Linked DNA regions of Homo sapiens. The protein of the gene in region 2 purifies or fractionates together with the protein of the main gene of each other region. This does not show direct contact. Each region holds a gene or a part of one and is shown on either strand. Other genes may lie near its edges. The genes, in order: PIK3AP1, SOSTDC1, TLN2, BMP7, SERPINB6, DRG1 and CEACAM5.

Region 1 (3,500 bases), on a different chromosome or scaffold from region 2:
AATACAAAAATTAGCCGGGCATGGTGGCATGCGTCTGTAATTCCAGCTATTCGGGAGGCTGAGACAGAAGAATCACTTGAACCCGGGAGGCGGAGGTTGCAGTGAGCTGAGATCGTGCCATTGCACTCCAGCCTGGGTAATAACAGCGAAACTCCGTCTCAAAAAAAAAAAAGACTCCAAGTCATCAAGGAAAGTTTAAATCGTGATTCAGCTCTGTTTCCTGAGCACTGATCATGTGTTAGTCACTCTGCTAAGCATCTCATGTACATTCTCTCATTTAATCCTCAGAACAATCCACAAAGTATATGTTATCAAAAAGCCCCATTTTACAGACACAGACATTAAAACTCGTTGAAGATTTACTGCTGCTGCTGCCCAAGTGCACATTGTTAGTCAGTGCCAGAGCAGGGATCTGACTCCAAAGTCCATGCTCTTAATCTCTAAGTTGCACCCAATTTAAAAAGTCAAGGAAATACAGAATATAGTTTAGAAAATACAGTTAATAAAATACATCTAGTGCCATGGGTTTCTCATACCATTCTCCAATAAAAGGATCCAGGATTCCTTAGTGAAATGATGGATTCTAGGAATGAGTCTAGGATTAAATACTTCCTGGGGCAGGAAATATTCAATATGAGCCTGGAGCATCTTGTAGTGCCAGAAAGTAATGCTCAAACAAAAATTCAATGACAGGCATATGTCAAAGGAACACGAGTCAACTCAAAGCGCCCAGTGGCAAAAGCTGGAACCATTTGAGCAACAAAATAAATAAAATAATATTGAATTATAACCCAAAGCATAAAAGAAATATACAGGAGTCCATACTGATACAAAATAAATAATTGAATAAATACACTGGGGAAAAAAGACAAATCTCCCATGCATAACAATTCTGAATAATTTATGTAGATAGATAACTCCACCCTCAAGGAGGTAGAGTGTAACTCCTTATACAGAGAACTTAGTGTTTGGCTGTGTCAAGTGAGTTCTTTCCAAAGAGCACAGTGTGGAAAGGGAGAAAAAAAAAAGAGTAAATTTACAATAGAGAAACCCAGTGATCAAGGTCAGCATTGACAGTCACAAATCATGTTGAGAGTGTGTGCCCTGAATACCATGGGCCGAGACTGGCACTTTACCTCTGTGGTCTTCCTCCCTGAAACCCAGCACCCTGGTCTAATTATGGGAAAAAATATCATACAAATCCCGACTGAGGGCTATTCTACAAAATAACTGACCAGTACTCCTCAAGACTGTCAAAGCCATCAAAAACAAGGAAAATCAGAGAAAATCACAGCCTTGAAGGGCCTAGGGAGACATGACTACCAAATATAACGTAGTACCTGAGATGGGCTCCTGGAACAGAAGAAGGACATTACATAAAAACTAAGGAAATCTGAGGAAAGCCTGAACTTTTAGTTATTAATAATTTATCAGTATCAGTTAACTAATTGTCACAAAAACCACACTAATGTAAGATGTCAATAATAGGTGAAACTGGATGTGGTCTATATGAGAACTCTCTGTACTATCTTTGTAGTATTTCTGGAAATCTAAAATTGTTCTAAAATAAAATTTTATTTAAAAGTATCATTGAGGCTGGGCGCGGTGGCTCATGCCTGTAATCCTAGCACTCTGGGAGGCCAAGGCGGGTGGATCACGAGGTCAGGAGATCGAGACCATCCTGGCTAACATGGTGAAAACCCGTCTCTACTAAAAATACAAAAAATTAGCCGGGAATTGTGGCGGGCACCTGTAGTCCCAGCTACTCAGGAGGCTGAGGCAGGAGAATGGCATGAACCCGGGAGGCGGAGCTTGCAGTGAGCTGAGATCATGCCACTGCACTCCAGCCTGGGCAACAGAGCGAGACTCCATTTCAAAGAAAAAAAAAAAAAAGTACAATTGAAATAAAGAGCACTTAAATCTCCTATATTTAAAAAACAAACAAATAAACAAACAGAACAGCTATTCAAAATGTCTCATTCCTGGCCAGGAACAGTGGCTCACATCTGTAATACCAGCACTTTGGGAGGCCAATGCAGGCGGATCACTTGACGCCAGGAGTTCGAGGCCAGCCTGGCCAACATAGTGAAACTCCAACTCTACAAAAAAATACAAAAATTAGCCAGGCGTGGTGGCATGCGCCTGTAGTCCCAGCTACTCAGGAGGCTGAGCCATGAGAATTGTTTGAACCTGGGAGGCAGAGGTTGCAGTGAGCCCAGGTCGTACCACTGCCCTCCAGCCTGGATGACAGAGTGAGACCCTGTCTCATTAAATAAATAAATAAATAAATAAATAAATGCACAATGTCTCACTCCTGGGGTTCTAGTGTTAAATTCAATTCCCTTTGAGTGAAAGTATTTGAGGAGAAATTAATTACTGCCTCAGACTAGTTAACATTACAACCTATTTGGTCACTAACCTGTGGTGTGACTTAGACCAATTACTAAGTCTAGGCAAATTTGCCTTGATGTAAATGAGGACAATGAAATCTATCACCTTCCCGAATATTGCTGTGCTGGGAAACTGAAAGAAGGGGAAGTTTTTAAAAAGTCCAAAGTGAAAGTTCCAGTCCCTTTCTGATGTGCTGGGTAACAATATAGGACTAAATGCTTTGTCAGCAACTCTGCCTTATATGGGGGAAACTCCTTTCTTCAGCAATAATCCTCTTCCTTTAACCATAAGTAGCTTTTCCACTTATCCTCAATCACATCTCTCTTTTTTTTTGCTTGTTCATTTATTAAGAGAAATGAAACACATGAGCTAACAAGGAGTCTACAAGCCCTAGAAAGAAATGAGGAAGGGTCTTTCTTTGTCCTCGTAAAACGTCAAGAACAGGTTTGGCTACAGAAGGAGAAAGAAATGGATCACAGCAGAGGAAGGGGAGGCTGTAGCAGCAGGGAGTCCATGGGGTGAAAAGCTGGGGCTGAAAGAGAGGTGCCTTTGCAGGATTCAGAGCCCAATGGAGGGCCGAGCGTGGTGGCTCACACCTGTAATCCCAGCACTTTGGGAGGCTAAGGAGGGCAGATCACTTGAGGCCAGGAGTTCAAGACCAGCCTGGCATGGTGAAACCCTGTCTCTACTAAAAATACAAAAATTAGCTGAGTATGGTGGTGGGCACCTGTAATCCCAGCTACTCGGGAGGCTGAGGCACGAGAATCACTTCAACCTGGGAGGCAGAGTTTGCAGTGAGCCAAGATCGTGTCACTGCACTCCAGCCTGGGTGACAGAGTGAGACTCCGTCTCAAAAAAAAAAAAAAAAAAACTCACTGGAGAGAAGTACAGACAGGAAGTGCCAGAAAGCTTCTCAAACCACCCAGCCCAGACCATTTCTTCAGCCTATAGGTGACTCTGGCACCCCATTCATCCATCCTGGAGCCCCATGTTTGAATCTGAACACCATATTTGAAGAGGGATGAGAGATAGGGAAGGTGACCAGGATAAGGAGAGATGTGGTCAATCATATCAGGAGCTTCCCACCCCAGAAGTTGTTCAAATTTAGG
Region 2 (4,166 bases):
TCCCGGCAACCCACTTGAACCCGAGCTGCAGGAAACAAAAAAGAATGTGCATCAGAGAAAAAATGCAAATGAAGACCTTTTAAAAAGTGATCTGCAATGACAAAAATAATAGGCAAATGATAGCAAATTGCCAAATAGAAAGTGAGCACCTACTTTATTTTCACAGTGAAAAAAATCTGTCTGGATAGTATAGGGACACTTTCATGAAAATCATCAGTTTACATGGCTATAACTTTTTTGGGAAAAAAAATGTAGGCCTGATTGTTTTTATATATAACATTAGCTAATTGCTTATTAGAGTGTTTGAAAATCCAATTTCCTTAGTCTGACTCTCCAATAAGGGGTTAGCAGCTCTTCCATTTATGTGTAAATATTCATTATTCAATGAGTTAAGAGTATACTTTAATATTCTCTTTCTCAAGGGTCATATTGGCTAATGTCTGCAAGTGTTTTTAATTAGGCTTTTTAAAAATCTGTTGAGAAAAAATGTGATAGCCATTTAAATATTGTGTATAATGCATATGCTCTCGGTAATATTTTATTTCAATTATAGACTTTAGCTGCAGAGACTCAGACATACATGTGTACAACATCTGACATTTTGCATATCAAACTTAATAACTATGTTTTAAACATAAATTCCCAAACTATCTTTTAAAAAATACAAACAGTAACATGTTTGAAATGTAAAATGCCACTACAACTCAAGACTCAAAGAATATAAAAGCCCCTAAATCAGGAACGTATGGTTGCCATAACAACTTGGCTACATTTCCATGAATTTTATGGCAGAAAAATGCCTAACATGTCTGATTTACAACTGCAAAAGGAACCACGGTGTTCATTTCCTGAATATTGGTCATGGCAAACTTTTTGTTTTAGTTATTTGGATTTGATAGGTATGTTCTCTAATTGGCTGTTTCTTGTTACATGCCTTATGTAATTAAAGCAAAAATTAATCTTTAAATATTTTAAGTTTTCCTTACCCTTGCTTTGTTATCTAAACTTGAGGAGAATTGCCTATAACAAGCTTGAAAAGAAATCAAGGCTTGCCAACCAGGAAAAAAAAAAAGGATGTTTAAAAGTACAGGCTGCTGACATTTTACAAATAAAAATGATAAGGGACACTGAAGTGGTTCCACAAAAAGTACTGAAAGATACGTCGAAGTAGAACTGAATCAGGAGTTTCACTTCATCTCTGTATGCTAGTACTTCTGAGGTAAGAGATATAGCTTAAGGGGAACGTGATAGTTGTGGAAAAACTTATGTATATAGACATGCATGCATAGAAATCTAGAATTGTGGGATTAAAATGTAAAGCGTAAATTGTTTGGTTGGACAGTGTGCTCAGCGTGCCTGATTCTGCCTCCAGCTCACCTTCCTGCAGCTGCCTCAGGAATGCACCTGGAAATAGCCAGAAATAATTTTGTCTCGTCAAGCTTTCTGTTCCTGTGTATATACAGATTTGGCATTTTTGCAGTGACAGTTCATTGACAACGAATACCCACCACATTGCTCAGTAATCTAATAATAATCAGATATGTCCTGTGTACTTAAAAGCAACCAGCTTCGTGAAAGTTAAAACATCCTAGCTTTCTTAGACATTAACAGTCAAATTTGCTTTGACTTTTCAAAAGTCAAAACTACTTTTCGTAGTTGAATGGAGTGAAGAAGGAGAGGCAAAAGATTTGTGTAAGATTTCCTGCGCAGTGTTTCTCTCTCTCTCTCTCTCTCTCTTAAAACCTGATTATTAGCATATGGCCTCTTCTAAAGGAAAAGATAGAAACAAAAGTTAGGGGTAATTTGAATCCCCCTAACCAGTGGTCAATTAGTGTGTCAACTAAGCTGTTGTTTTACATCTCTTAAGTTACAAAAATGTCCCCAGTCTGTCACAGAAATACACAATTATCTAAATTTTGAATGGGACAACAAGGAATTATTTTAGAAAAATGTGATTCTCCAACATTTTTAGTTTATCCCTCTTTTACATTGAGCATCATCAAAACTTTTGACTATCTCACTAGACATATTTTAGAAATCCAATGTAAACAAATTTTTTCTCCTGGAAGCTTCCTTTTTTCCCTTGTGATTCCCTATATTTATTTGTGGATGGTAACTAATAATATATATTAGTTACGTTTATACACTTTACCAAAATTGCATATGCCCTGAAATAAATTGACAAAACAACCGGAACTTGAGCTATCTAAAACAATACTTTTTAAAATGGTCATTTTGCATGATTTTGACAAAACAATAGTTTAATTCCTGGAAATGTTTTCTTTGTGGATGTTTGATAAAACTTCAGTCTGTGCTTGCACTATTAAACCACTGTTTTAGTTAGGTTAACTTTAAAATCACTACCTAGGGAAGAATGCCAACCTGCACATGCAGCAGATTACTCCCAAATTGTTTCACAACATATATACGGTTCAGGTTAGTTACCAATAAAACAATTCTACAGGAATGTGAGCTAATGCTACCAGAAAAGAAAAAAAAAAACTGTACAAGTAAAACACACTTACTGTTCCGATCCAGTCCAGTGTTACTGAAATGCCTGCCTCCATTTCTGGCTTGATTCAACGTGCTGTTGCTGCTGGGGTGTGCTGGAACAGGTTTAACCACATGTGAATAAAGGATTTCTGTGGCATCATTTTTAAAAGCCAAACAGCTTTTCATTAGGATGCATGCAAGGGGAAGGAGATAGAAATGAATGGCAGGAGGAAGCATGGTGAGTAGAGGATTTGCTTGACTGAAGAGCTGGTTAATTCTTTTGCTTCTGCTTCTGCACTGTAACTGTGAAATTCCTCCTCAAGCTTCCCTTTATATATCCATAGAGGTTTGGCGTTCATTCAGGTGTAAAGTTGTGTAGAGCTTCAGAGTGAAAACACAGAGAAGGGGTGGGATCCCTACATGACCCTGCAAAAGAATTTTACCAATGGAAAAGAAGACTGCAGAAAAGGAGGAGCTTGGTATACAAATTGCCTGAAATTTCAGAGTTGGACTTCATCACTTGTCTGTGAGCCGACGCAGGCAGGCGTATTCTATATCAACGACAGACTCTCCTCTGCCATTTCCTTTCCTGAATCTAGTTAACATTCGGGTTTAATTTAAACGAAAATACATCGCTGTTCATTTGAAGAGACTGGCTTTCCCACAGTTGTTCTGTACTTTCCTCAGATTTTAGAGTATTTGGGTCAGAAAGGGAGTTCTTCCCAGATAACAGGAGGAATTCATGTGAGTTTAAATATTGCAGGACTTGCATGAAGCACCTAGTTAGCTAAACATTGCTTTCTCTCAAGAAGCAAACCAATATTTTTTTTTCCTTAAAGTAAAAGGCACAGAGCTAAAACCTGCCCCCTGGACATGCTTAAATAATGCAGCTTTGATCTACAAGAACTACTGTGCTGCTAGGTAAATTATTGCCAGGGGTTTTGTGTGGAGAATAATGAGCATAGTTCTGTCTACATTAAAGTAAGTAATACTCATTTTTGTCTTAAAAATGTGTCACAAGCATTAATATCCATAGCATTGTTTTACATAAAGCCATTTGTGACAGACTTTTTAGCGGATTCAAAATAATTTTTTCTAGATTTTTTCAGAACACAGATTCTACTCGTATTTACTAAATATTTTGCTCATTACTTCCTTTGACTCTGCTGCCCAAGTAAGAAACCTATTTTTCTGAATTACTTTACCGGCACCCAGAACACGTGTTCCATTAATTAATTATAGGCCACTGATGATCCCTTTAAAACAATCATAAAATTCTATTTCATCATGGGACATCTCAATTGGAATAACTATTCTGAATCATCTTTTCAATTATAAATCCATTTTTGTCCTTTGTGTGGTTACCTAAATCACCTAATTTTGTATCTCTTTTCTGTATAAGCTTTTGTCCCTTGTAACTGCCATTTGCCTATATGTCTGCCTACCTGAATTTCTCCATAGCAGCGCTACTGGCATTTTGGAAGAGACAGTTCTTTATTATTGGGGGACCATCCTGTGTGTTTATCAGCATCCCTGGCTTCTAACGACTAGACGCCAGTAGCACCCCCCTAGTTGGTAACAAAAATAACTCCAAACATTGCCAAATGACCCCTACAGGGTAAAATCACCCCCAATTTAACCACTAATTATCTATTCATCTATCTCACTATAAA
Region 3 (3,500 bases), on a different chromosome or scaffold from region 2:
CAAACCAGGCACTAAATAGCAAATGACTTCCTCTCCCCTAGGCATCCAAAACCAAGGGGATAGGTAGGGTCCCAAAAACGTACCCAGGCTCGGAAGCAGAATTAAGAACAGAGGAAAAAGACATCCTCTACTTTTTTCTCCAGAAGCAAACCTTTTCTTCCCAGAGCAAGAAGGACCACAGAGACCACAAATAATAAGGGGTTTGAGACTGTTAACACAGGAGTGGGACAGGGCTGAGTTGGTCCAGGCCTGGGTCCCCGCAGTGGCATTTCTGGGGACTTTGAGGATACACACAGGAAGGACAGGCAGGACCTGACAGTCTCAAGAACAAGGAGGACAGAGGACTGAGGACTGAGACTATGATGATCAGATCCCTTCTGCCCAGCTTCCTGTGCACTTTTATGCAGGACTGTTCTAGGCCCAGATGAAATGAGCGGAGCATGTGGTGAGTCCTGCCTAACTCCACCAGGGCCACATAATGAGGGTTATAAATACACAAGATATAAAGACACACATAATAAGACAGGCCCTGTCTTATTCACAGTGTGCACTCAGCACTGGGCGTCACCCACATCAGGCCTGTGATGAAAATCTATGTAATGAAGACATGAATGAATAAGACAATGAATGAATGAACCCCAGCCTGGCAGAGCTTTGTGTCCCAAGAGGAGCCTGCCTGACCCTCTTGACCTGGCTGGAGTCTCTGCTGAGAAACAGCCCCAGGGAGCAGAAGCTTGCCAAAATGTGCCAAAAAACCAAGGAGAATGTGCCAGCGTTTTCTCGCAACAGTTCCATCCCAAGACAATCATTTTCATGTGATGATTTTTAAGTGCTTACCTGGCTATGAAATCACCAGGCTGGGAATTCTCCGTCAACTGCTAAAAGCCAGGACAGAAAGGCAACGAAAGCTTTTTTTTTTCCCCTTTTCCCCATGTCCTTTCTTCGAAGCCACCACCAGGGGGCCTGCACCTATTCACAGAGCCATACACCAGCAATATTCTTTCCGGCTCTGTTTCCTTCTATATCTGGCTTTCAAAAGGGCAATTTATACATTCCCCCTCCTTCCCACAATTTAGGAGAGTGAAGCCATTCCAAGCTGGAAACTGTAATTTTGAAATGATGCAAAAAATTGAAGATAATGAAAAACATCTGAGTTCTGATACCTGGAAATGTCAGTTGCCTTATCCAAAGGCTCCTTTGTAGGAAAAAAAGCAACGATCAAGAGGGGGTTTTCTATCAGAAACAGCTGCTCAACAGAACAGACATCACCCCCAACCCCACCTCCCATCTCTCCCACCATCAAGGGAGGTCACTTATTTACTAGAACAGTCACGAACAAAGCATGAGATGGGAAGATAATTTTCCAGTCCCCTAGTGGCTCTAGCTATTGTTTGCAGTTAAAATGTACCTTCCAGGAATAAATGAAGAAACTCAAGGGTTTGCAAGCAAACTGCTCTGACAGTGTCTAACCCTTCACACACACACACACACACACACACACACACACACACACACACACACACACCCCACTACAAGCCAAGAGGGAGGAAGGACATGTTTGGACCATGAGTACCATGAGATCTTATGTGCTGAGAGCTAAGGAGAGCTTTAAGGATGATGTAGTTCATACCCCCACTTTGCAGATGGGAAAGTTTAGACAGGCTGAGCAACCTGACCAATGCGACTGAGTTAGTCAAGTATTAAAGCTTGGAATATAATTCAGGTCTCTTGATGCCGACAATTTAAAAAACAGCCAATGATCTCCCAGGGGAGACATAAAGACACACACACACACACACACGCGCAAATTTTAAAAAACCAAGTTAAAAAAAGGAAAGCAGAATCAAAGCTATGCTTTTCAAAAATCACGAATCTGCACATTATAAAAAGGCCTCCAATTACTCTCTATCCCCTAATAGTCCTGCTTTTAATCTCTCTCCACTGTCAGCTTTCTTATACGTAATATGATGGTAAATAATGCTAAAAAAACATGCCTGCACCACCACAGAATCATGACCACCCTACTCTCTGGGTTCAGGAAAATGAAAGAGGGGCTGCTGATACGAGAACCCCCTGGGCTGTCACTGCAGTGCTCCACATACCACATTCAACCACTAGTTACTGAACTAACTTGTGGCCCTGGAGCAGAAACTATACTGTTTTATCCACTTCCCTGGGTGAAACCAACAGGAAAGAAGGACACCCAAATCATCCAAAATTCACACTCATGTTTTAATATATTTCCAAAAACAATTTATTCCCACTGCCTCCCTACTCATCTTAAAGTGGAGCCTTCCCCATGTGACAGATACAACATGTTACATTCAATCTAACACTGATGCCAGGCACAGGGTTAAGTGCTCAATAAAAGTCTGCTGAATGACTTGATGAGCACTGCTTTTCATCTTTACGCTTTTCAGTATTTTCTGATGTTTCAAGAAGCATATATACTATTTTATAATCAGAAAGATATAATGCTACTTAAAAAAAATCTGTTTAATTCATTGCATTTACAAGTCAAAATGGACCTTACGTCTAAACAAGTCTCTACTGAAAAGGCTGTATGAGAAGACAGAAGATATTTTTAGTGGGGAAAGAACATGGAAATGAGCCAGTTTTATAAAATATCAGAGTGTCCATCACTCTCAGCTCCACCTCCCATGACCTAAGGACAGCACCAATTCTTTTGCTCAGCAAAAGTGGGAGGATGTCAGGCACATCTTCAGACTGCAATGACACTGTCTAACCACACACGAAAGCACATTGTGTCCCACTCCTACCTTGCAGCTGCAGCCAGGAGATTTTTCGCATTGGGAGCTCCTGGATCTACAGAGAGAGACTTGGCAGCTAACAGCAGCTTGCTGGATGCCATCGAGATATTCTTGAGGTTCCCTATCACTTGGATCTGGTCTTCTTTTGTCTGGAAGGTCAAAAGGAGCCGGAGCTATTAGGGCCTGTCCATTTCTTGAAGGAGGCATTCAGAGAGCTAGGAGCAGCATCCTGACATGCAGGCAGGTTATCCGTATAGATCACATTAAACCCAGTTAGCCCGCAGATGCCTAACTCGTTGAGACACTGACCAGTGTCTACCCTTCTCCAAACAGATGCTCAGATCAAGATGCATGCCACAGGGAAAGAAATCCATCCCCAAGTGGGTCAGCCAAGAGCTGTGCTTTTCTCACAACTAGAGGCATTAAGCGGGGAGCAGGGTGGGAGGAGAGTGAGCGAGCTGTGAGCCAATGCACAGACCAGGCAGCGATTCCAGCATCTTGCTCAACAATGCTGGAGTTGTCAAGGAGCTGTACATCTCGGCCTGGCACAAACGACCAGCACTGTCTCGATATTCAGAGCTGACTGCATCCCTGAAGTTCCTGACTCGGGAAAGCACACATTTCTCACCCGGTTGCCATCTGAGAAACAATTCTTTGTAGATACTAGAAGAAGATACACCCTGGTTATCTCTTTTAGGGAGGTCAAAGGAGCGCAGAAAAAAAAAAAAA
Region 4 (3,500 bases), on a different chromosome or scaffold from region 2:
TGCTCTTGTCGTTCAGGATGACCATGGGGACCATGGGGTCTGAGCCTGTGACCCTCCAGTCTACAGTGTGTTGGTGAGGAAGGAGCAGTTGTCACTGGGGTCACTGGCAATGGGCATGCCTCCATCTAGCTTAGGCAAGATGCTTGGACTCAGAGCCAGAGAGTGAAACCCAGACACTAATGAGCTGTCGGTGTTGGTGTGTGTTCTCTTCCTCTTCCAGTGGAACATGACAAGGAATTCTTCCACCCACGCTACCACCATCGAGAGTTCCGGTTTGATCTTTCCAAGATCCCAGAAGGGGAAGCTGTCACGGCAGCCGAATTCCGGATCTACAAGGACTACATCCGGGAACGCTTCGACAATGAGACGTTCCGGATCAGCGTTTATCAGGTGCTCCAGGAGCACTTGGGCAGGTGGGTGCTATACGGGTATCTGGGAGAGGTGCTGAGTTTCCTCTGGGGGCAGAGGAAGAAGGTGGTGAGGGCCAGAGGATGGGTCAGATTGGCACAACCACGTGCCAGGCCCTGTACCAGATTATCCCTTCTAAAGAAGGTGTATGGTGTATGTCACTTCCTTAAAACCATGACCGACAACAAATTCAGGAATAGTAGAAGGCCAGGGAGCCCAGGGATGCGTGGTGCCTTGTGGGTTTTTATAGGCAGTCTAGATCTGGCTGGGTGCTAAGGGACATAGAAGAAAAGGGGAAGGGGAAGAAACATTTTTGAAGGGCTACCTCTCTCCCGTTTCTCACTCTGAAACCCAGTGCACGATGTCAGGCAACCAATTAAGGTGGCCATCTAAAATAAAATGTTAGGGGAAGAAAAAAACCCAAACCAAAAAAAACAGAGAACTCTTAGCCTTCCAAGAATCACTAGGTCAGAAACCAAACGTTTGTGTTGAAAGTCTTTAATTTATCGAGATCCATTAATTTCAAGGTCTTGTGAGAGGTAAGGAGGCTAAGAAAAAGGGCTGGGACATTTAGCAGGTGCATTCTATTCAGACAGTCCCGAGGCAGAAATGACCAAGGTCCTATTACTCAGTGGCTGGGTTGCTGGACCCCGCAGGCTGTCAGACATCTACCGTCCCCACTGGGCAGGGAAATTGATGGAAGAAAGGTGGTGTGGGCACCTCCTTGTGATGTGCAGGCTTAGCATCTTCAGCTAGAAAGGGGACTTGTTACCATAGACAGGGACAGAAGAACCATCACAGCTACGTTTGCCAAGCACTGCTATTTGGTGCTGGTGGGGGGTGGGGGTGGGGATGGTCATCTAAGTACCAAGAAAACAAAACTGTTCTTGAGCGTTTCCAGAGTGTTTTGCACTTGATATCTTGTTTCATATTCACAGTAGCCTTCAGAAGTGGTGGCTTATCTGTAAAATGAGGAGAACTAAAGTGACCTGAAGCCAAAGAATGAGGCTACCCAGAGAGAATGTGGCCACATTAGGACGTGAGCCCAGGTTTGCAAAGCTGGAGCCCATGCTTATGAAAGATATTTCTTTCCAAAATTTGTTTTTAGGCCGGGTGTGGTAGCTCACGCCTGTAATCCCAGCACTTTGGAAGGCCAAGGCAGGTGGATCATTTGAGGTCAGGAGTTTGAGACCAGCCTGGCCAACACGGTGAAACCCCGTCTCTACTAAAAATAGAAAAATTAGCCAGGCATGGTGGCGGGCGCCTGTAATCCCAGCTACTTGGGAGGCTGAGGCAGGAGAATTGCTTGAACCCAGGAGGAGAAGGTTGCAGTGAGCCGAGATGGTGCCACCGCACTCCAGCCTGGGTGACAGAGTGAGACTCTTTCTCAAAAAAAAAAAAAAAAAAAAGTTTTTGAGTAGGCAAGACATGTTCATGGTATAAAATCAAAAGGAAAGAAGAGGAACCACAGTGAAAATGAAGGCTTCCAGCCCCTGCTGAGGTGGTCCCTGATGCCAGTTTCTTGAGTCTCCTGAAATCAGCGAAGGAATCTGTGTTGCTGTTTTCACCTGTGGAACCCCACAGTGCACTCACTCCTGCCTCTGGCTTTCATCGTTGGATGATGAACCTTGGCAGCCCTTTCCAGGGGTTCACACGGGGTGCCCTCATCCTCTGAGTCACCTCACTGTTCCACGGCTTGGGTTGTGCTGTGTTTCACGTGTGCACGCTGGCTCCTCTGTTCTATGATGGATGGTGCCGCAGGGCAAGTACCCTCGCTGACATACGTGTTCATGTCTATCAGTCAGATAAAGTTCTAGAGATAGAATTGTGGGGTCAGAGGGCCCACACATGGGTGGCTTTGGTAGACACTGCTGAGCAGCTCTCCTGGGAGGTGACATCGACATCTACTCCCAGCAGCCAGGGAGCTTCTTGCTTAGGATGAAACCACAGCCTCTGTGTCCAGGCTGTTATCTGGATTCTCCACTCAGCTCCGGCAGCTCTTGGTCCTTCCTGCTGGCTTTGTGGGCACCTGGTCCCATCATGGTCTGTGGTGCCTCTGCTGTCTTGCCTGAGATCCATGGGGTGGATCCTGAGGGCTGCAGGGTTGGGCAGCAGGCCTGAGCACTGTGTTTGGAGGAGGGATGGGCGTTCCAGGCGTCCTCCCTGCCAGGCTGCCGGCAACAGGCAACTTGGGCTGGGGGTGCCCATTCTAGTGCTGGGGTCCTGCTCCTGGGGGCTTCTGGGCTGCTGAGTGACTGAGTCCCTCCTCAGCACAGGTACCTGCTGCATGCCATGCCTGAGGGCATCGACCAGAACGAACCAGACACGAGTCCCTGCCCTCTGGAAGCTCACGTTCCAGCAGAGGAGAGGACATGGCAGGTGGGAGCATTGAGCAAGGAAGGGAATAGGGTGAGAAGCAGTGGAGGGCAAGACGGAGCTGCTTTCTTTAGGTTTCTACATGTTCTTCCTGTGCCTCCTGCAGCAAAGCCTCCATTCTTCAGAAGTTAAATGGTTAAATTTAAAAAATATATTATTTATTCATTTTTCTGGACAGGTTGTTTTGTTTTTCAACCTAGAACCAAGATGCCCCTATGATGTAATTCCCCAGCTATTAAGAGCATGGATTCAAATCCTGCCACCAGCTACCCATGTGGCCTTGGGAAAGAGTCATCTCTCAGAGCCTCAGTTTTTCCCTCTGTAAAATGGGGATAATAATTGAATCTCCCTCCCAGAGTTGTGCTGTGGATGAAAGGGGGTGACATACTTACAACAGTGTCTTACACACAGGAAGTGCTCAATAAATGGTCACCTGCGTTAGTATCATCATCATCACAGCAGGAAGTGGAGCAAGACCTCTTTAGGAAGACAAGAGCCCTGGGTGGTGGCTGTGGCACTGCCTTCCCATGTAGGTCCACCGAGCCAATTCCCCTAATTCTGCAATCTTCCAGTAGGAACAAAGCCCTGAGCTTGCAAATGCTCTTCAAATCCCCCACGCTTCCTCCAGCTCGCCTGTTCAGAGATAGGCTTTTTCTTTGCATGTCCCCAACCTGGTTGCATGTCCCCAACCTGGGCCCGCACAGCTTCTTCCAGCT
Region 5 (3,500 bases), on a different chromosome or scaffold from region 2:
CCTAGAAGTTTCCCTGTTTTACCAATTGTTTCTCTTCAAGTTGATAAGCGGGCAGTTCTTGTGATCTAGAATCCAAAGAACCAAAAATAGGCCCAATTTTGCTTCAGTTCCGTGTAATGGCTACTTTTGTTTATACTGGTGTTCCCAGGGCTCTGCGGAATCCTGGATTTATTTATGTATCATCAAAGACTCCCTTATATTCAGAAGAATTTTAGTAATATGTACTTTCTATTGTCCTTTTATTAGAAATTAGTAATCTTAAAATATGTTTGGAAAGGCTTGGCAAGCCAGGAGTGCCCAGTGCCCCAAGTATTCTGTGTAATGAATAAAGAAGAGTTTGAAAACAAAATATTTAAACAAGCACAGCAAACAAGCTTTATCAGGTGTATGAGTTATTGTCTTGGTTTCCCGTGGCTGCTGTAACAAATGACCATGGATTCGTGGCTAAACTGCACATGTTTATTTTCTCAGAGTTCTGAGGTTGGAGGTTGGAAATGGGTTCCGCAGGGCCAGGCTCCTCCAGAGGATCCTCCTTGCCTTTCCAGCTACTGCAGCTGTGGTCCTTGCGTTTCTTGGCTTGAGGCCCTTCATCTTCAAGGCCAGTGGAGTGGCATTTTGCTTTATTCTTTGCATTGCTTTTTCCCGTGAGATCTCCCCCTCCCTCCCTCTTAGAAGGATACCTGTGATTACATTTAGGGTCAACTGGAACAATCCAGGATAATCTCCCATCTCAAGAGCCTGAATCTAATCGTGCTGCACAGTCCCTTTTGCCATGTAAGGGGCATTCACAGGTCCCAGGGATTATGACCCAGGTATCTTTGGAGCACTTGCTCAGCCAACCCCAGCTCCAAATGTAAAGGCATGCACAGTGGAGAGCCGCTTAATTCAGCATCTCCTCACAGGGCCTCCAGTAGGCACCTCCTTCCCTCTCCCATCTGCTCCAGGAAATGTCTGCTCCAGCTTCTCCCCTTCCTTGTTCCGTGGGTTCCCACTCACTGCTCAAGTGAGTCACTGGGACTGTCTTAGAATGCTGGCATTCTCTGACTGGGACATATTCATTTGGTAAACATCTGAGAACTGTGTCAGAGCAGGCAGGCCCCGCATCCCTGCATTCCTGCATCCCCTCCTTCCCAGCCTGACTGCCTGTGGGGCCCTTAGCTGCCCCTTGTCCTCTCACCTGATTCTGCAGATTCTTCTTCTTGAGCAGCAGCTCAGAAAGCGCATCCGCCCTGCGTTTCAAGCCCAGCTACTTCTTAGCTTCACTTCCGTCAACTTCACCTTCCCTGTAGTGCAGTGGGGCATTGATGGTAGGTCTCTCTAAGGGCTTGGTGGACTTTAACATGTGATTCTGTGATTCCGACTTGCCTGAAGATACCCCAGCTCCCCCCTCCCGACTATCCAGCTGCATTCCTGCTCTGGACCCTGCTGGGGCTGCCACACCCACTGCACGGCAGGGCTAGAGAGATGTGCAGCCTGACCCTACCCCTGAGCCTGTCTGTGAAGGTGGAGATGGGCATGCACCCACAGCCCATGAGGCAAGGTGGTGTCCTGAGTGTGCTGTGAGTTCAGGCGCAGGAAGGCCTGGCTTGTTGCAGCAGGATGTCCCCAAGCGTGGTCCAAAATTGGGGCTTTGCCACCTGCAGGGATTTCCTAGAAGGAGATCCAAGGGTCAGGAGGCATTTGAAAGGCTTTCACGCATCTTTGTATGTGGCTTGATTGATCCTTTTTTAAGGCTCTTGCTACCCAGAAATGGGATTCTCTCTCTCATTATAAAAACATTTGGCCATCTTTTCTTGTGTAACTGTCAGTGAATGTATCATTTTGAATATTTTTCAAATTAAAACAGTACATTTAAGCCCGCAAAACACACCAAAGAATACAAACATAGAAGCAAAAGCCAGTGCCCCTTCTGTAATTCCACCCCAAGGAAGAGACTCCAGGAAAGGGTGCCTCCTTCCCACTTTCTCCACGTGCGGGCAGGCGTGCAGGGAGGAGTCCTCACAAAACAGGGCGGCGTTTCACATAGAACTCTTTCATTTTCCACACTTAACATTAGAAACACACAAAATAATGTGGAGGGTCCTAAAAAGAAACAGCCAGAGTTCTGTGTGTGTTTCTGCTTGCCCACTGAACCACAGCATCGGCGGTGACTGTCGGTAAGGCGCGTGAGATGCAGTCGCGTGGAAGCTGTGCTTAAGTGATACTGATTTTAAATCTTGTTCCAGGTCTGCCATCATGGATGTTCTCGCAGAAGCAAATGGCACCTTTGCCTTAAACCTTTTGAAAACGCTGGGTAAAGACAACTCGAAGAATGTGTTTTTCTCACCCATGAGCATGTCCTGTGCCCTGGCCATGGTCTACATGGGGGCAAAGGGAAACACCGCTGCACAGATGGCCCAGGTACAGCTTCAGGGCAGCCATGGTGCTATTAACTGTCAAGTTAGCTGGTCCTCCTTATTCCAAATCCCAAAGGGATCGCTCGAGACGGATGACTGTGCAGTATTGCAGGGTGTGGGTGGCGAGTTTACAGGGAAGGGCATGCCACCCATGCTGGAGCACCCTGGGGACAACACCCTGACTGACCCCCTGGGGTGGAGAGGGGGCGCCCGATTCAGAGGAATGAATGATTTCATCATCACATGGCTTAGCTTGTTCGTGAGTTTGTAGATGGTTGTAAAGTCACAAGGTTCAGGTTGAGTCCTGTGATGATCTTTGGGTACTGTCATCTGCTTGTTGGTTGTTAGGAGTCTTTATTTTCTCATTTACGCGTAAAGCCTTCTTAGAATGGCATTTGTCAGCTAAACATGTTTTCAGTAGCGTTCTGGTTATTTGTTGTTGTGTAACCAGCTCTCCCAGCTTAGCAGCTTTCCTGGTTGTTGAATCTGGGTGGATTGAGTGGTGCTTCTGCACCACTTGGCACTGGGTGGGTCCCTTGTGGGCTGCGTCAGCGGGGGCTCAGCGGGGCGCTGGGCGTCTTCTCCGTGGCCTTCTCCGCTGGGGCCTTCCACATGCTTCCTTCAGCAGCGTTGCCTGGGCTTCCGTAGGCCTGGCGGCTGGGTTCTGAGAGGAAGTGCTCGCAGAAGACAGGCTTGAAACAAGTACCCATCACGTCCCCGCCTGTGTCCTGCTTGCCAAGGCCCCACTGCCAAAGGCAGAGGCATCTCCGCGCCTGAGAGGGGTTGAGAGAGGGTGCGCACACCACAGATGTAGCTGGTCGGGGCCACCCGTGACTGCTGTGGTCTGCCCTCTGGACCTGGTGGTTCCCTGGGAGCCTGAGATCCAGGTGTAGGCAGGGTTGGTTTCTCCTGCAGCCTTTCTCCTCGGCTTGTAGACACTGTTTTCTCCCTGTGTCCTCACATGGTCATCTCTCTGTGTGTGTCTGTGTCCTCATCTCCTCTTTTTATAAGGACATGAGTCCTATTGGATTAAAGCCCAACCTAATGGCCTTATGTTACCTTAATCACCCCTGTAAAGGCCCTCTCTGCAAATGCAGTTCCATC
Region 6 (3,500 bases), on a different chromosome or scaffold from region 2:
CATATTGCAATTTCTGCAAATCCCCAACTCACAAAAATTTTTGTAGCCGTTCTTAAGCAGGCACAACCGAATCACCTGGAAAAACTTTTAAAATGTAGAGAGCTGAAACCCATCCCTGCAGATTCTGATTTGAAGGGCCAACAGATAGGGATCTGTACTTCAAAAGGCTTTACAAGTGACTCTGATGTATGTCCCCAGTAAAAAATGACTGCTCAGGCTGGGCCCAGTAACTCACACCTATAATTCCACAGCACTTTCCCAGAGGCCGAAGCAGGCAGATTGCTTGAGCTCAGGAGTTCGAGACCATCCTAGCCAACATGGTGAAACCCCGTCTGTACAAAAAATACAAAAATTAGCCGGGTATGGTGGCACACACCTGTAATCCCAGCTACTCTGGAGGCTGAGGCACAAGAATGGCTTGAACCCGACAGTCGAAGGTTGCAGTGAGCCGAGATTATGCCAGCCTGGGCGACAGAGTAAGACTCCATCTCAAAAAATAATAAAAATAAATAAATAAATTTTAAAAGATTTTAAAAAGATAAAAATGACTGCTCAACTGCCCAGGAAATGCAGTAAGGTAAAACTTCACAGAACTCAGTGTACCTAATGATGTGATTGAAAAACCAACCCCACAGCACATGTGATTCAAATTTACATCTCAGCAAAATTATAAACTATTAATTTGACTGCCCTTAAGAATCAGTCAAAACAGTTAAAACAAATATAAAATCTAAAAATACCAAGGGTCTACTGTATGGCAAATACTGAATTATACACATAAATGAACTGAAAACAGATGCAGCTTATTAAAACATCACTTAAAATATCTTTTTTTTTTTTTTTTTTTTTTTGAGAATGAGTCTCGCTCTATCGCCCAGGCTGAAGTGCAGTGGTGCAATCTTGGTTCATTGCAATGTCCGCCTCCCAGGTTCAAGCGATTCTCGCACCTCAGCCTCCTGAGCAGCTGGGATTACAGGTGCTCGCCACCATGCCCCACCAATTTTTTTTATGTATTTTTAGTAGAGACAAGTTTTCACCATGTTGGCCAGGCTGGTCTCGAACTCCTGACCTCAAGTGATCTGCTCGCGTCAGTCTCCCAAAGTGCTGGGATTATAGGCATGAGACACAGTGTCTGGCCTTGCTTTTTCATAGGGATTCTCAGCTGGGCATGGTGGCTCAAGCCTGTAATCCCAGTACTTTGGGAGGCCAAGGTGAGCGGATCATCTGAGGTCAGGAGATCAAGACCAGCTTGGCCAACATGGTGAAACCCTGTCTCTACTAAAAATACACAAAAAAATTAGTGGGGCGTAGTGGCGGGCACCTGTAATCCCAGCTCCCTCAGGAGGCTGAGGCAGGAGAATTGCTTGAACCCAGGAGGCAGAGGTTGCAGTGAGCTGAGATCACACCACTGCACTCCAGCCTGGGCAATGAAGCAAGACTCTATCTCAAAAAAAAAAAAAAAAAAAAAAGAAGGAAAAAAAGGGGAGTCTCGCTCCATCACCCAGGCTGGAGTGCGGTGGTGTGATCTCGGCTCACTGCAACCTCTGCCTCTCAGGTTCAAGTAATTCTCCTGCCTCAGCCTCCCGAGTAGCTGGGATTACAGGTGCCCGCCACCATGCCCCACTAATTTTTTTTGTGTATTTTTAGTAGAGACAGGGTTTCACCACATTGGCCAAGCTGGTCTCGATCTCCTGACCTCAGGTGATCCGCTCACCTCGGCCTCCCAAAGTGCTGGGATTATAGGCTTGAACCACCACGCCTGACCAAAACATAATTTAAATCAGATATGCTTTGCTCTAAGAATATAAGAAATTACAGAAATATACTTTGCATTAAATAAACTGCAATGAAAACTGATTTAGCAGGTGCGAGACAGTTCAACTTCTCCATTCAAGAACGTACTCAAAAAAAAAAAAAAGAAAAATGAAAATAAAAAATAAAAATAAAACAAACAAAAGAACATACTCAGGCCCAGGACAGTGGCTCATGCCTATAACCCCAGCACCTCAGGAGGCTGAGGCAGGTAGACTGCTTGTGTGCAGGAGTTCAAGACCAGCCTGGACAACATATTGAGACTCTGTCTCTACAAAAAAATAAAAAATTAGTCAGGCATGGTAGTGCATGCCTATAGTCCCAGCTACTTGGAAGGCTACGGTGGGAGGATCACTTGAACCCAGGAGGTCGAGGCTGCAGTGAGCCATGATCGTACCCGTGCCACTGCATTCAGCCTGGGTGACAGAGCGAGGGAGAATTACCATGAGGCAAAAGTACAATAATAACTGTTACAGACAAGACCCACAGATGGATGCGAAAATGAGCAGGCAAAAGTTTGAGGAAAAACAGGATTTGCATCTTCTTGAAGTATCTCCCCTAAAATATATATTAACTGTCCAAAAAAAGGTAACTTTAGAGAAACCCTACAGACACAACCATAACCAATTGATGGAGGACAATATCACCAATAAGACATACTGACAATATGAATCCCATGGTAGGAGGCACTGAGAAAGACAGTATCATTTCTGTGGTATTCTTGCCAAAAATACCTAATAAGTCTAACCAAGAGAAAACATCACACAAACCCAAATTGAGGAACATTATACAAAATAACTGATCATTACTCTTTGAGAGTGACAAGGTCACAAAAGATAAGACAGAGACTACTGCAGATGGCAAACAAATAGACAGAAATAGCTAAATGCATCATGGGATGATCCTAGATAAAAATTTTAGAAGAGAAAAAGGACACTGGTGGAAAAAACAGGTAAAAATTAAAATAAGATCTATAGTTTAGTGAATACTGTTGCAGAAATGTTCATCTATCTCTGATAATTTTTCTATGGTTATGTAAGATGTTAACAACAGGAGAAGCAGGCAAGTGATACGAGAACTCTTTGTACTATGTTTGCAACTTTTTTTTTTTTTTTCCGGGACAGGGTCTCATTCTGTCGCCCAGGCTGGAGTGCAGTAACACGATCTCGGCTCACTGCAACATCTGCCTCCCAGGTTCAAGCAATTCTCCTGCCTCAACCTCCCTAGGAGCTGGTATTAAAGATGCCTGGCTAATTTTTTATTTTTAGTAGAGACAGGGTTTCAACATGTTGGCCAAGCTCAAAAAGTTTATACAAAATGAGAGAAAAAAAGACCACGAGAGAGAATTAAAAGCTCACCAACATGAATGCAAAATTATGCAGAATGAAAGAAGCCTATGGAAAAGAAAGTGCATTTATATTTATATGTGGTTTTTGTTTATGTAAAGTTCTTAACATGTAAACTAATCTACAGTAACAAAAAGCAGGTAAGTGGCCAAGCGCAGTGGCTCACACCTGTAATCCCAACATTTTGGGAGGTCGAGGCAGGCAGATCATGAGGTCAGGAGTTCAAGACCAGCCTGGCCAACATAGTGAAACTCCGTCTCTACTAAAAATACAAAAATTAGTCGGGCATGGTGGCACATACCTATAGTCCCAGCTACTCAGGAGGCTGAGGCAGGAGAATCA
Region 7 (3,500 bases), on a different chromosome or scaffold from region 2:
CAGCTGCAGCCTGGGACTGACCGGGAGGCTCTGATTGTTTACCCACCACAGGTAGGTTGCGTCCTGAGTCTCAGGTTCACAGGTGAAGGCCACAGCATCCTTGTCCTCCACGGGTTTGGAGTTGTTGCTGGAGATGGAGGGCTTGGGCAGCTCCGCTGTGCAGATAACAGAGAGAAGATTGCCCTGTGTGGCACCTTTGATTCCTCACAGGCATCTTTCAATCAGAGTTGGCACCTTCCACCTCTCAGCCCACCTGAGCCCTTAAAAACCCACGGTGGGTGCATGTGTCACAAGACAGATGCACGATGATCTGAGATCTCAGAGACTGCGAGGCTGCCTGCTCGGTGTGGGGGAAGCACAGACTTTCTCAAGTGTGAATTAAGCAGCAGCATTGGGCTGTGAACAGACACAGGACTGGGGGGGAGGTCACAGCTCCTGGTGCCTCTCCTGGTCCCTCCCTGACCAGTTGACTACTTGGCCCACTGTAGGGTCCTCACCTGGAACATTCAAGTGCTGGGTCCCTTCCACCTTCAGTCCTACTTTGTTTCCCTAGGTATATTTTTTCTGTGGTTTCCCTTTGCAAGGACATCCTAGAAATGGATAGTGATGGGTCTTCCCATTGTCCTTAAACCCTGTACATATTGTGCAGCCTGGCCTGGGACTGGATGTTTCAGTAGAAATAACACAGGGGACACCAGAGGCAAGCCTGGAGGTCAGCTCAGTCGTTAGGCAGTGGAGGCACAAGGTGGGGCAGTTTTTCCCAGGTGTTTGATGATGACTGACTTGAGCCAGAGACCCCTAAAGATAGAGTGGAGTCCAGGGAATGATCTAGAACTTCAGGTGACAGGCAGGAGCTGCCCGGATTTAACAGCAGAACCATATGTATGTTCTTTGTCTTTGGTCTTTGTTTGTTTGTTTGTTTTTTGAGATGGAGTCTTGCTGTGTTGGCCAGGCACGATCTCGGCTCATGGCAACCTCTGCCTCCCGGGTTCAAGCGATTCTCCTGTCTCAGCCTCCCGAGTAGCTGGGACTACAGGCGCCCACCACCACACCCAGCTAAATTTTGTATTTTTAGTAGAGATGGGGTTTCACCATATTGGTCAGGCTGGTCTTGAACTTCTGACCTCAGGTGTTCTGCCCACCTTGGCCTCCCAAAGTGCTGGGATTACAAGCATGAGCCACTGCACCCGGCCTGTCTTTGGTCTTTAATGTCCCTTCTCCCCTTGCAGAGGGCAGGCGAGGATGCTGTGGATCTCTCCATAAATACATGTGGACATTTGCAAATGCAGAACTGACTGGTGGAAAAGGGGGAGCATGAACTGCTGGAAATCTGGCCCTCAAGGACCATGTGTGTTTGACAGTTATGAGACAGAACTTTGAGAAGAAGTTTTGCAATTATTTTCTCCCATTGGACATTATGCTAAATGAAATAAGCCACTCACAGGGCAGATACTGTAGGATTCCACTTATATGAAGTCCCTAGAGTAGTCACACTTGTGGAATCAGAGAGTAGAATGGTGGTTGTCAAAGCCTGGGAACTGGGGGAATGGAGAGTTGTTCATGGGTCTGCAGTTTCAGTTATGCAGGATGAGGAGGTTCTAGGGATCTGCTGTTCAGCTTGGTGCCTATAGTTCATACAGATTGAGTATGTCTTATGTGTAAGGCTTAGGACTAAAAGTGTTTTGGATTTCTGACTGTTTTTGAGTTTTGAATATTTGCAATATACTTACCAGTTTAGCACCCCAAATCTGAAAATACGGAATCCAAAGTGCTCCAGTGAGCCTTTCTTTTTTCTTTTCTTTTCTTTCTTTTTCTTTTTTTTGAGATGGAGTCTCGCTCTGTTGCCAGGCTGGAGTGCAGTGGCACGATCTCAGCTCACTGCAACCTCCACCTCCCGGGTTCAAGCGATTCTCCTGCCTCAGCCTCCAAAGTAGCTGAGACTGTAGGTGCATGCCACCACGCCCAGCTAATTTTTGTATTTTTAGTAGAGACGGGGTTTCACCATGTTGGCCAGGATGGTCTTGATCTCTTGACTTTGTGATCTTCCCGCCTTGGCCTCCCGAAGTGCTGGGATTACAGGCATGAGCCACCGTGCCCGGCCTTCAGTGAGCATTTCTTTTGAGAATCATGTCAGTGGTCAAAAAATGTTGGATTTTGGAGCATTTCAGATTTTGGATTTTAGGATTTGGGATACTCAATCTGTAGTACTATAATTTGCCCTTAAAAATTTGTCAGGAGTTTAGATCTCATGTTATTTTCTGACTATAGTTAAAAAAGTGAAAGACATTTGGGGGAAACATTAAATTTTTTCCATAAGTGGAAATTCTTATCAATGGCCTAAAGATCTAAGATCAATTGCTGGAAGTAGTACTTCTTTTAATATTATGCTAAGGTTTAGGTCTGCTCTGAATTCCAAAGTGATCACATTATGCTCAAAGGAAGATGCTGAAAGTGGTTTGAAATCAGTGACTCCCTGAACAGAGAGAGGGATGTGAGACCTGTTAAGAGGACAGAACCGGTCAGAGAGGAACTCTTAGGTGTGTCAATTACATAAAGGGAGAAATGATGCCAAGTTAGGAGAAGCAATGTGTGTGATGTTAGTAAATTTAGAAAGCGCTCCCTGCCCCTAGTTCCTGTGCAGAGTTAGGCAAAAAGAGGAGAAGCCTCAAAACAGGCATGTGAAAGGTTTTCTTCCTCTCCTATCAACCTCAGAAAACACAACTAGAGTTTAAGTTTTTGTAACTGGGTAGAGTCTAAGTGAGACGCCAGTGGCTGGTTCACTTCTCAGTCCAAGGGACTCCACCTTATGACAATGGCATCATCATGAGGACACAGGTGTATGTGGAATGGGCAGCAAACCTATCAGACAGCACCTGCCTGGCCAGCTCCACCTGGGGGAGGTCCCAGGATCCACTGGAGGATGTGAGCCCCACACCAGGATGAAGATGGAGTGGGTAGTGAAGTGAGTGAAATAAGCATGCGGGCTTTGGGGACTGCAGACCTGTCCTTCTGCCTCTGACCCCCTGGTGAGTCAGTGTAGGGAGTGGATGGAGGAGTCGCTCATTCCCGTCCTGCTGCCTGTTCCGTGTGTTGGCCTCATGGAAGTAAAGAGCCCTGGGCAGGAACACAGCGGAAGCTCATTCTCCTGGTGACCTGTTGACATTGGCTTGTGATGGAGCCTGGCAGGGGCTCCATCTGTGCCTTCCCTATTGCCTGTGATTTCTGTGCCTTCCCTATTGCCTGGGAAGTGGGCCAGGACACAGTGTGAGCGGCAAGAAAACAGGACAGCCAGCCTTGTTCAAGGGAGTGTCTGGGGAAGGCCTAAGAGTGGAGGAAGATGTTCAGGGATGGGCATCTCAGCTGGAATGAAGAGGGAGGAAGACGAAGAACATGGAGGAATAGAAGAAAGTCAGAAATGCCCATGGCAATGAGCCATGCGGGGTATAGTGACCTCGGAGACCCCAGGACTAGGAGTCCCTTGGCTGTCCCGACCAGGACCA

What was found.
Region 1: the proteins of SOSTDC1 (region 2) and PIK3AP1 purify together in Homo sapiens (affinity purification with mass spectrometry, with the first as the bait; one study listed by BioGRID). This does not show direct contact.
Region 3: the proteins of SOSTDC1 (region 2) and TLN2 purify together in Homo sapiens (affinity purification with mass spectrometry, with the first as the bait; one study listed by BioGRID). This does not show direct contact.
Region 4: the proteins of SOSTDC1 (region 2) and BMP7 purify together in Homo sapiens (affinity purification with western blotting, with the first as the bait; one study listed by BioGRID). This does not show direct contact.
Region 5: the proteins of SOSTDC1 (region 2) and SERPINB6 purify together in Homo sapiens (affinity purification with mass spectrometry, with the first as the bait; one study listed by BioGRID). This does not show direct contact.
Region 6: the proteins of SOSTDC1 (region 2) and DRG1 purify together in Homo sapiens (affinity purification with mass spectrometry, with the first as the bait; one study listed by BioGRID). This does not show direct contact.
Region 7: the proteins of SOSTDC1 (region 2) and CEACAM5 purify together in Homo sapiens (affinity purification with western blotting; one study listed by BioGRID). This does not show direct contact.

What each region holds. Positions count from the first base shown.
Region 1 is NC_000010.11:96,714,015-96,717,514, forward strand, and holds part of PIK3AP1 (phosphoinositide 3-kinase adapter protein 1), read right to left. Parts: intron 1-3,500. UniProt on the Homo sapiens protein: Signaling adapter that contributes to B-cell development by linking B-cell receptor (BCR) signaling to the phosphoinositide 3-kinase (PI3K)-Akt signaling pathway.
Region 2 is NC_000007.14:16,462,939-16,467,104, forward strand, and holds the start of SOSTDC1 (sclerostin domain-containing protein 1 precursor), read right to left. Parts: upstream 2,801-4,166; 5' UTR 2,731-2,800; coding exon 2,526-2,730; intron 26-2,525; coding exon 1-25. UniProt on the Homo sapiens protein: May be involved in the onset of endometrial receptivity for implantation/sensitization for the decidual cell reaction Enhances Wnt signaling and inhibits TGF-beta signaling. Directly antagonizes activity of BMP2, BMP4, BMP6 and BMP7 in a dose-dependent manner.
Region 3 is NC_000015.10:62,740,050-62,743,549, reverse strand, and holds part of TLN2 (talin-2), read right to left. Parts: intron 2,921-3,500; coding exon 2,781-2,920; intron 1-2,780. UniProt on the Homo sapiens protein: As a major component of focal adhesion plaques that links integrin to the actin cytoskeleton, may play an important role in cell adhesion. Recruits PIP5K1C to focal adhesion plaques and strongly activates its kinase activity.
Region 4 is NC_000020.11:57,225,142-57,228,641, reverse strand, and holds part of BMP7 (bone morphogenetic protein 7 preproprotein), read left to right. Parts: intron 1-220; coding exon 221-413; intron 414-3,500. UniProt on the Homo sapiens protein: Growth factor of the TGF-beta superfamily that plays important role in various biological processes, including embryogenesis, hematopoiesis, neurogenesis and skeletal morphogenesis.
Region 5 is NC_000006.12:2,958,068-2,961,567, reverse strand, and holds part of SERPINB6 (serpin B6), read left to right. Parts: exon of another isoform or gene 1-598; intron 599-2,225; coding exon of another isoform or gene 2,226-2,235; coding exon 2,236-2,400; intron 2,401-3,500.
Region 6 is NC_000022.11:31,406,104-31,409,603, reverse strand, and holds part of DRG1 (developmentally-regulated GTP-binding protein 1), read right to left. Parts: intron 1-3,500. UniProt on the Homo sapiens protein: Catalyzes the conversion of GTP to GDP through hydrolysis of the gamma-phosphate bond in GTP. Appears to have an intrinsic GTPase activity that is stimulated by ZC3H15/DFRP1 binding likely by increasing the affinity for the potassium ions.
Region 7 is NC_000019.10:41,711,626-41,715,125, reverse strand, and holds part of CEACAM5 (cell adhesion molecule CEACAM5 isoform 1 preproprotein), read right to left. Parts: intron 156-3,500; coding exon 1-155. UniProt on the Homo sapiens protein: Cell surface glycoprotein that plays a role in cell adhesion, intracellular signaling and tumor progression. Mediates homophilic and heterophilic cell adhesion with other carcinoembryonic antigen-related cell adhesion molecules, such as CEACAM6.